Regions from separate parts of the Homo sapiens genome. Here region 1 is reported to be linked to region 2. Evidence: microRNA targets listed by miRTarBase, many of them from high-throughput screens and not tested one by one. Region 2 holds a microRNA gene; the other region holds the end of a gene's coding sequence.

Region 1 (3,000 bases), not on the chromosome of region 2:
TTAAAATGACAGAATAAGAAAATGAATAAAGCTACCACAAAAGAAAGAAAGTGAATAAAGTCACCAATAAGAAAATGAATCAAGTTACGTTGTTCCACCCAGTGCCTCTGTGAGTCATCTTTCTTGGTGACCCCAACACCTACAAACCATGCAGTGGGTTGACATCCCGGGACTGCTGCTCCTGGTGGGAGGCAACTGACGTCACTTGCTTGACAACGAGACTGACCTTTTCTTCCACCACGCCTTCATCTCTCCTCTCCAAATACTGACTTTTTTTCCACTATATTTGTAAAAGTTATGTGATTGTATGACTACAGCTCTTCTGTGGTACCTACAGGTTGATACAAATCATTAAAAATCAAAACATCAACGTATCTAAGAACCAAATGGTGCATGTGACTCCCCGGAGAAGGATATATATGCCATGTTGCCACTTGAAGGAGAATCTTCCAGGCATCAAATCCCGTGGATTCTCTTATTTTCTTTCACATTCCCTCTGCTTTTCCTCACAGTCGGCTACCACGCTCTGAGGAGCCCGTGCCATCTCCATTTCCCCCATCCCTTTTTCACTTTGCCTCACACCAGTCAAATCCAAATATCCGAGAGTCAGACACTGGGAGACTGTCTGCTTCTTGGCAACTCCCAGGTGGTTATGATACGCTTCCCGGACCGCAACACTGACCTACGGAACTGAAATGATGAATTCATGTCAGAAGAAATAGGATTTGGGGAAGAATTCATTACCTGGACCATTTTCAGCAGCTGGAATAAAAAGTACTTAACAACAACAACAAAAATCACACACAAAGTCCAAAAAGTGTTTTGAAAAAGTGCTTTGAGAATTTACTGTACAGTTTTTTTAAACAATTTATTTATATGTTGGCTTCTACATGCTCTTACATTCGTGTAAAACATTTATACATATTCTTTACAATTTGTACATATATTAAATGGCTATAGCATAAACATTGTTCTATGGGATTTTATAGAAGAAAAATCAAGTGGGGAGAATTACTTATGAAACATTAACAAAAACCCGTGATATTGAAGAACAAGATGTTCTCATATTCATTTGATTTCATCTACTTATTTTTGGTGTCATTTTATTGATGCTGGCCCAGACTTTCCATTTCCCGTAATTATTAGGTCAGAAAAATGAAAGCAGCGGGAGGGAACGCGGTAAGGCACCTGTGGGAGACGGGAGCGCTCCTCCGCAGGGGTGAGACGGTGGCTGCCAGTGTTGAGTTCGAGCTGACGGTGTGCCAAGGTCCTGTTTTGCTTTATGCCGTTAAGTGAAGCGCTGGAAGTGCTGGTGCTCAGAAACACCCTGTGTGAAGTTTCGGATGTAGTCGGGAAGGGCGCTGGTCTGTTCTTTCTCTCCAACCTCAGAGCGCCGGGGACTCTGTACACTGCTGAGGCTGCAGCCCTTCTCAGTCCCTACACTTTTCCATCTAATGGGGAGCTAACCTGTGCTTTTTCTCTTTGCTGATGACACCAACTGGCCATGAACCCGCCACCCAAGCCAAGCAGTGTGCCGTGGCCACAGCAGCGCTTCTCATCACGGTGGATGAGGAGCCAAAGAATAAGAAAGGGCCAGAGACGCCGGGGTGCTGGGTGCCCTCCTTCTCCCAGGCCCTCCCGAACACAGGCCTCCGCACAGCCACTCACCCGTTGGACCAAAGCCACAAAATTCTCTACAAAGTCCCTCAATTCTTCTAATGTATTCTTCATGGCATAAAACATGCCTTAACCAAGATTAGGAAGGAAGTGCAAAGAGAGAAAGCACTGGTCCTCACATAAGAGCAGCACATCAGAAATGTCGCTGAGGACATGGGTGGCCAGGGGTATCTGCTCATCTGCCAGGCTGTGGGGTCCCCCTGGAGGGACATGGGATGGCCCACCTGCCACACACCACGATGGCACTAGCAGCCCCAGGGGCCCCCAGCGTCCTCCCTCTTGAAGTGTAAGCACTTGAGCTGTAACTGTGGCAGTGAAAGGCGTAACGACTTCCCTCAATGACAGGAGCCCCAGAGGACTGAAAGGAGTTATAAAAATATACAAACATAGATATTTTTTATTCTGGCATAGTTCATGTTTTTAAGAAAGTAATTAGTAATTAATTATCTGACACTGGGTAAGAACTGGAAGATTGTGGGAGACTTATAAATTATATAAGACTTATAATTTATAAGACATATAAATTATGACTCTATGTAAAATATCAGTGGGGAGAAACCCCTCATTTTCCATTGAAAATTCTGGTAACTTTTAAGTACTTTCCAAAAATAGAGACAATTTCCACTGGTTTAAATAATGGATGCGGAAATGAACAAAAGACCATCCCTAAATAACTGACGCATTTAGGGTGGCTAATAAAATAAATGCAGTTTTTTGCAACTCTTTCTTTTTGGTTTTGTTTCCTTTTTTTTCTGAATAATAGGGGAAAAAAAGTTTTGAATTGCATTGCCCCAAGTCAGGAGAAAGCACGCGGCATTCTCTTCAAGGCCCGTTCTGTCCTACATCACTGGAAAGCGGCTGAGGGCCTGCCTCAGCTTTTCTGCAATCTGACAAGAAAGCAAAACAAAACAACGTTGAGATATCACTCCCATTACGACCTCACAGTGTTCTTTATTCACAACTCCAACAAGTTAAACATGACACAAATTCCAATTCTTTAACTGGTCTTTTTGGCACCAGCCCTGCCCCGCGTTGCTGCTGGACAGACCTTAACCCCGAATGACACCGGCAGCGCTGGGGCCCGAGCTGGCCCTGGTGGTCCCTTCCCGCCGGGAGGCGTCTACACATGCTCCCCACCTCTGCCCTAGCGGCGCTTCCAGACCACCTGCTTTTCCTCAGATGAGCTGGGGGCTCAGGCCTTCATGTTTGCCTAGAGCCCCCTCTTTCCTGGAGGAGTATGAGCTTCCAGAATCCCCTGAAGGTTGTGTCGCCCTGGCCACACCCTGCTGTCACTGCTGAGTGTGCAGACAGCACGAGCCTGCC
Region 2 (3,528 bases):
GCAGTGAGCCAAAATCGCGCCACTGCACTCCAGCCTGGGCAAAAGAGTGAGACTCTGTCTCAAAAAAAAAGAAGTAGACATTTGTCAGACACCACCTTCCTGAGACAGAAGTCCCATGCCCCTAAACCTGATGATGCAAAGGGGAAAAAGCTAGCCACCAATCCTATGATACCTACCTCGAAGTTCCCGTGGTTGCAGGAAAGAAGGCTGCCCCGGACTCCAATTCTGTTCTGCTATATTTAGTTGTGCCACATCTTGCTCAAGTCCACTTGTACTAGAATCCACCGGAGCTTCCCAGGTCCCAGTCTTAGTAGGTGGAGTTGGGGTGGTTTCTGGGACTGGAGGTGCTGGAATCAGTCCTTCAGGAGGAGGGGGCACCTCCTCTGCAAGCTTGACTGCATCTCCAACTTTGGTTCGAGTTCTTCTTGCCCGGGAATAGGATTTCTTCTCAATGGGCCTATCAGGGGGTGGTGGTGCAGCATCAGGAGCAGCAGCTGGTGGCTCTGAGGCTGCCTCTTCCTTCTCAGGACTGCCAAGCACTGGAGCATCTGCTTCTGGAGATGGATCCCTCACAGAAGTCTGCTCTAGGCGCCGTGACCGGTAACTAATCTCATGCTTAACAGTCTCACCAGACCGGCCACCATGCTGCCCACCAGCTTCCACAGGCCTAAAACCAGCACGACCTTCCTTGAAGCCCCCAGATCGAGAATAATTCCTGGGTGCAGACATACGGCCGGTACCTGCAGCATTCCTGTTAATAAATGTCCTTGGTGGTAGGGTGCCCCCAAGACCCTGGTGGCGATGAGACTTGTTTAGCCGCTCACCGTTCCAGTTTGGATCTCTTTGTGGAGGACTCCCATATCTACAAAAAATGGAATGAAGAAACTGTTAGGAAATTAACAAAAGGAGGCTACGCGCGGTGGCTCAGGCCTGTAATCCCAGCACTTTGGGAGATCGAGACGGGCAGATCACTTGAGGCCAGGAGTTCAAGACCAGCCTGGCCAACATAGCGAAACCTCATTTCTACTAAAAATACAAAAATTAGCCGATCGCGATAGTACGCGCCTGTAATCCTGGCTACTCAGGAGGCTGAAGCAGGAGAATCACTTCAACCCAAGAGGTGGAGGTTGCAGTGAGCCGAGAACATGCCATTGCACTCCAGCCTAGGCAACACAGCGAGACTCTGTCTTAAATAAATAAATAAAAAGAAAAGCAAAGAGAATTCTTTCTAAAAGATATCAAGAGTCTACACTCTATTTTTTTTTTCCTTTTTTTCTTTTTTTTTTTGGAGACAGGGTCTCACTATGTTCCCCAGGCTGGTCTTGAACTCCTGGCCTCAAGCAATCCTCCTGCCTCAGCCTCCCAAAGTGCCGGGATTCCAGGTGTAAGCCACCGTAAGCCACCATACCCAGCCTGGTCTTATGTTCTAAAATGTCCTCACCGGGGTTTCCGGATTCTTCGAGGTTTGATGTCATCAGGATTATGAGCTGAGCGAATGTCATAACCATAAAGAGCAATGAGCTCCTGTCGGGACTTTGGGGCCTGCTCATCTTCCCGGAACTTGTCATGCTCCCAGCGACCCTCATCCTTCCATAGCTTTCGCTGACGCCCCTTGGGTCTGGATAAAATGAAGGAAAAGTGTCTTGGGTCAGCAGAATTCTCCAAGTAGAGATGTTCTTGAACAAAATGGGTCAGGGAGGCAGGGGGACAATAGGAACTTTACGTAGTCTCCTCATCATCCCAAAGAGATTATAAAAAACAGGCCTCCCCAAAGCAAGCGTGAATCACAGAACCTCAGGGCCTGCTGGGCTCAAATATAACAGACACAGAAATGAGAAAAAGACTTCATTTCATGCCATTCAGTACCTTTGAAACATCTCCTTTCTCCTAAAAGGCAACCTATGCAAGTATTTCACTTCTCAGACGCCTTACACCTCAGACTAAGAAAAGCAAAAGTATAATAATTAAGAGAAGATGAGTTCTGGAAACAAACTGTCCTAGGTCTGTATCTTAGCTGCCTCACCAAGAGTTACCAAATATTCTAAGCCTACTTTCCTCATTTGTACGATAAGGATAATCATAATACTTATCTTAAAATGCTGTAATAAATGAAATACAGGCAAATCGAAGTACCTGGCCTACATGTGTAAAATACATGTTAGACAGCAGCAGCAGCAAGTGGCTTTTACCTGACTTCCTCCTCCTGAGTTTGCCCTCGAAGATCATGCTCAAAGAAGAGCCCTTTCCGAGGTATGTATGCTGGATTCTTCCGATCTTCATCATCATCCAAATGCTTAGGGCCCTTTTTACCCACTTTGTTCTCCACAGGCTCTGTGCTCTCCTAGAGGACAGATAAAGGGATCCTTACTCTTCCAAGCCTCAAGAATCTCTATTCCAGCCTCTAAAATGGAGGACTGTGGAATGTACTAACCTGTCCGTCCCCACTTTGCCTCTCTCCAGTCACAGTGCTTTTGGTGTCAGGCTTTTCTTCTCCCTTCTCTTCTTTTGTTGAAGAATTAACAGCATCATTAGCTTCTGATTTCAGCTCCACTTTGGAGTTTTCCTCTTCACTGTATTCACCTTCTTCACCCTGAAAAAAGTTTCCCTGTCAGCGATGCATATAAGATCTGAACGGTGCATTTTAATTCCCACCCCTGCCCCCAACCCCAAAACAAAGTCTCTGTCACCCAGGCTGGAATACAGTGGCACAATCTCAGCTCACTGTAACCTCTGCCTCCAGGGGTCAAGCAATTCTCCTGCCTCAGCCTCCTAAATAGCTGGGATTATAGGCGCCCACTACCGCGCCTGGCTAATTTTTGTATGTTTAGTAGAGACCAGGTTTCACCATGTTGGCCAGGCTGGTCTTGAACTCCTGATTTCGTGATCTGCCTGCCTTGGCCGCCCAAAGTGCTGGGTTTATAGGCGTGAGCCACCGTGCCTGGCTGCATTTCAATTTTCTACTCTTTAGGAATACATTTATCAATAAATTTTTAGTACAACATAGAACTGAAAAGCAAACAAATCAATATTCTTACCCATATTTCTAGAAAATAAAGATCCTATTTTGGCCTGGCACAGTGGCTCACGCCTGTAATCACATTTTGGGAGGCCAATGCAGGCAGATCACCTGCGGTCAGGAGTGTGAGACCAACCTGGCCAGCATGGCAAAACCCCATCTCTACTAGAAATATAAGAATTAGCCGCACTTGGTGGTAGGCACCTGTAATCCCAGCTGCTCGGGAGGCTGAGGCAGGAAAATCGTTTGAACCAGGGAGGCAGAGCTTGCAGTGAGCAGAGACTGCGCCACTGCACTTCAGCCTGGGCGACAGAGCAAGGCTCTGTCGCAAAAAATAGTAATAATAAAAAAAAGACACTATTTTAAAAATATCACATTAAAAAAAATACACACATACATACATATATATCCACATAGGTATTCCTGGAACATATGCAAGAATTATTAAAAGTGGCAGGCTGGGCGCAGTGGCTTACACCTGTAATCCCAGCACTTTGGGAGGCCGAGGCAGG

Evidence for each region. The annotated mature microRNA hsa-miR-6866-3p reads GAUCCCUUUAUCUGUCCUCUAG and lies in region 2 at 2,342-2,363, opposite strand. An mRNA with a match to its seed (bases 2 to 7 or 8) in the 3' UTR can be bound and repressed. Matches are read on the target gene's strand: a 7mer-m8 pairs with bases 2 to 8, a 7mer-A1 pairs with bases 2 to 7 and ends in A, and an 8mer does both.
Region 1: miRTarBase lists SNX9 as a target of hsa-miR-6866-3p. Seed matches in the 3' UTR shown: 7mer-m8 at 558-564.

Annotation. Positions count from the first base shown.
Region 1 is chr6:157,942,355-157,945,354 of GRCh38, reverse strand. It overlaps SNX9 (sorting nexin 9), which reads right to left. Exons shown (of 18, transcript NM_016224.5): 18 at 278-2,564. The coding sequence ends at 2,517. Among named protein-coding and RNA genes, the nearest start is that of SYNJ2, 38 kb to the left of the region's middle.
Region 2 is chr17:40,160,815-40,164,342 of GRCh38, reverse strand. MIR6866 (microRNA 6866) reads right to left here and starts at 2,410; the gene lies at 2,342-2,410. CASC3 (CASC3 exon junction complex subunit) reads right to left here. Exons shown (of 14, transcript NM_007359.5): 4 at 2,432-2,590; 5 at 2,190-2,341; 6 at 1,442-1,618; 7 at 177-862.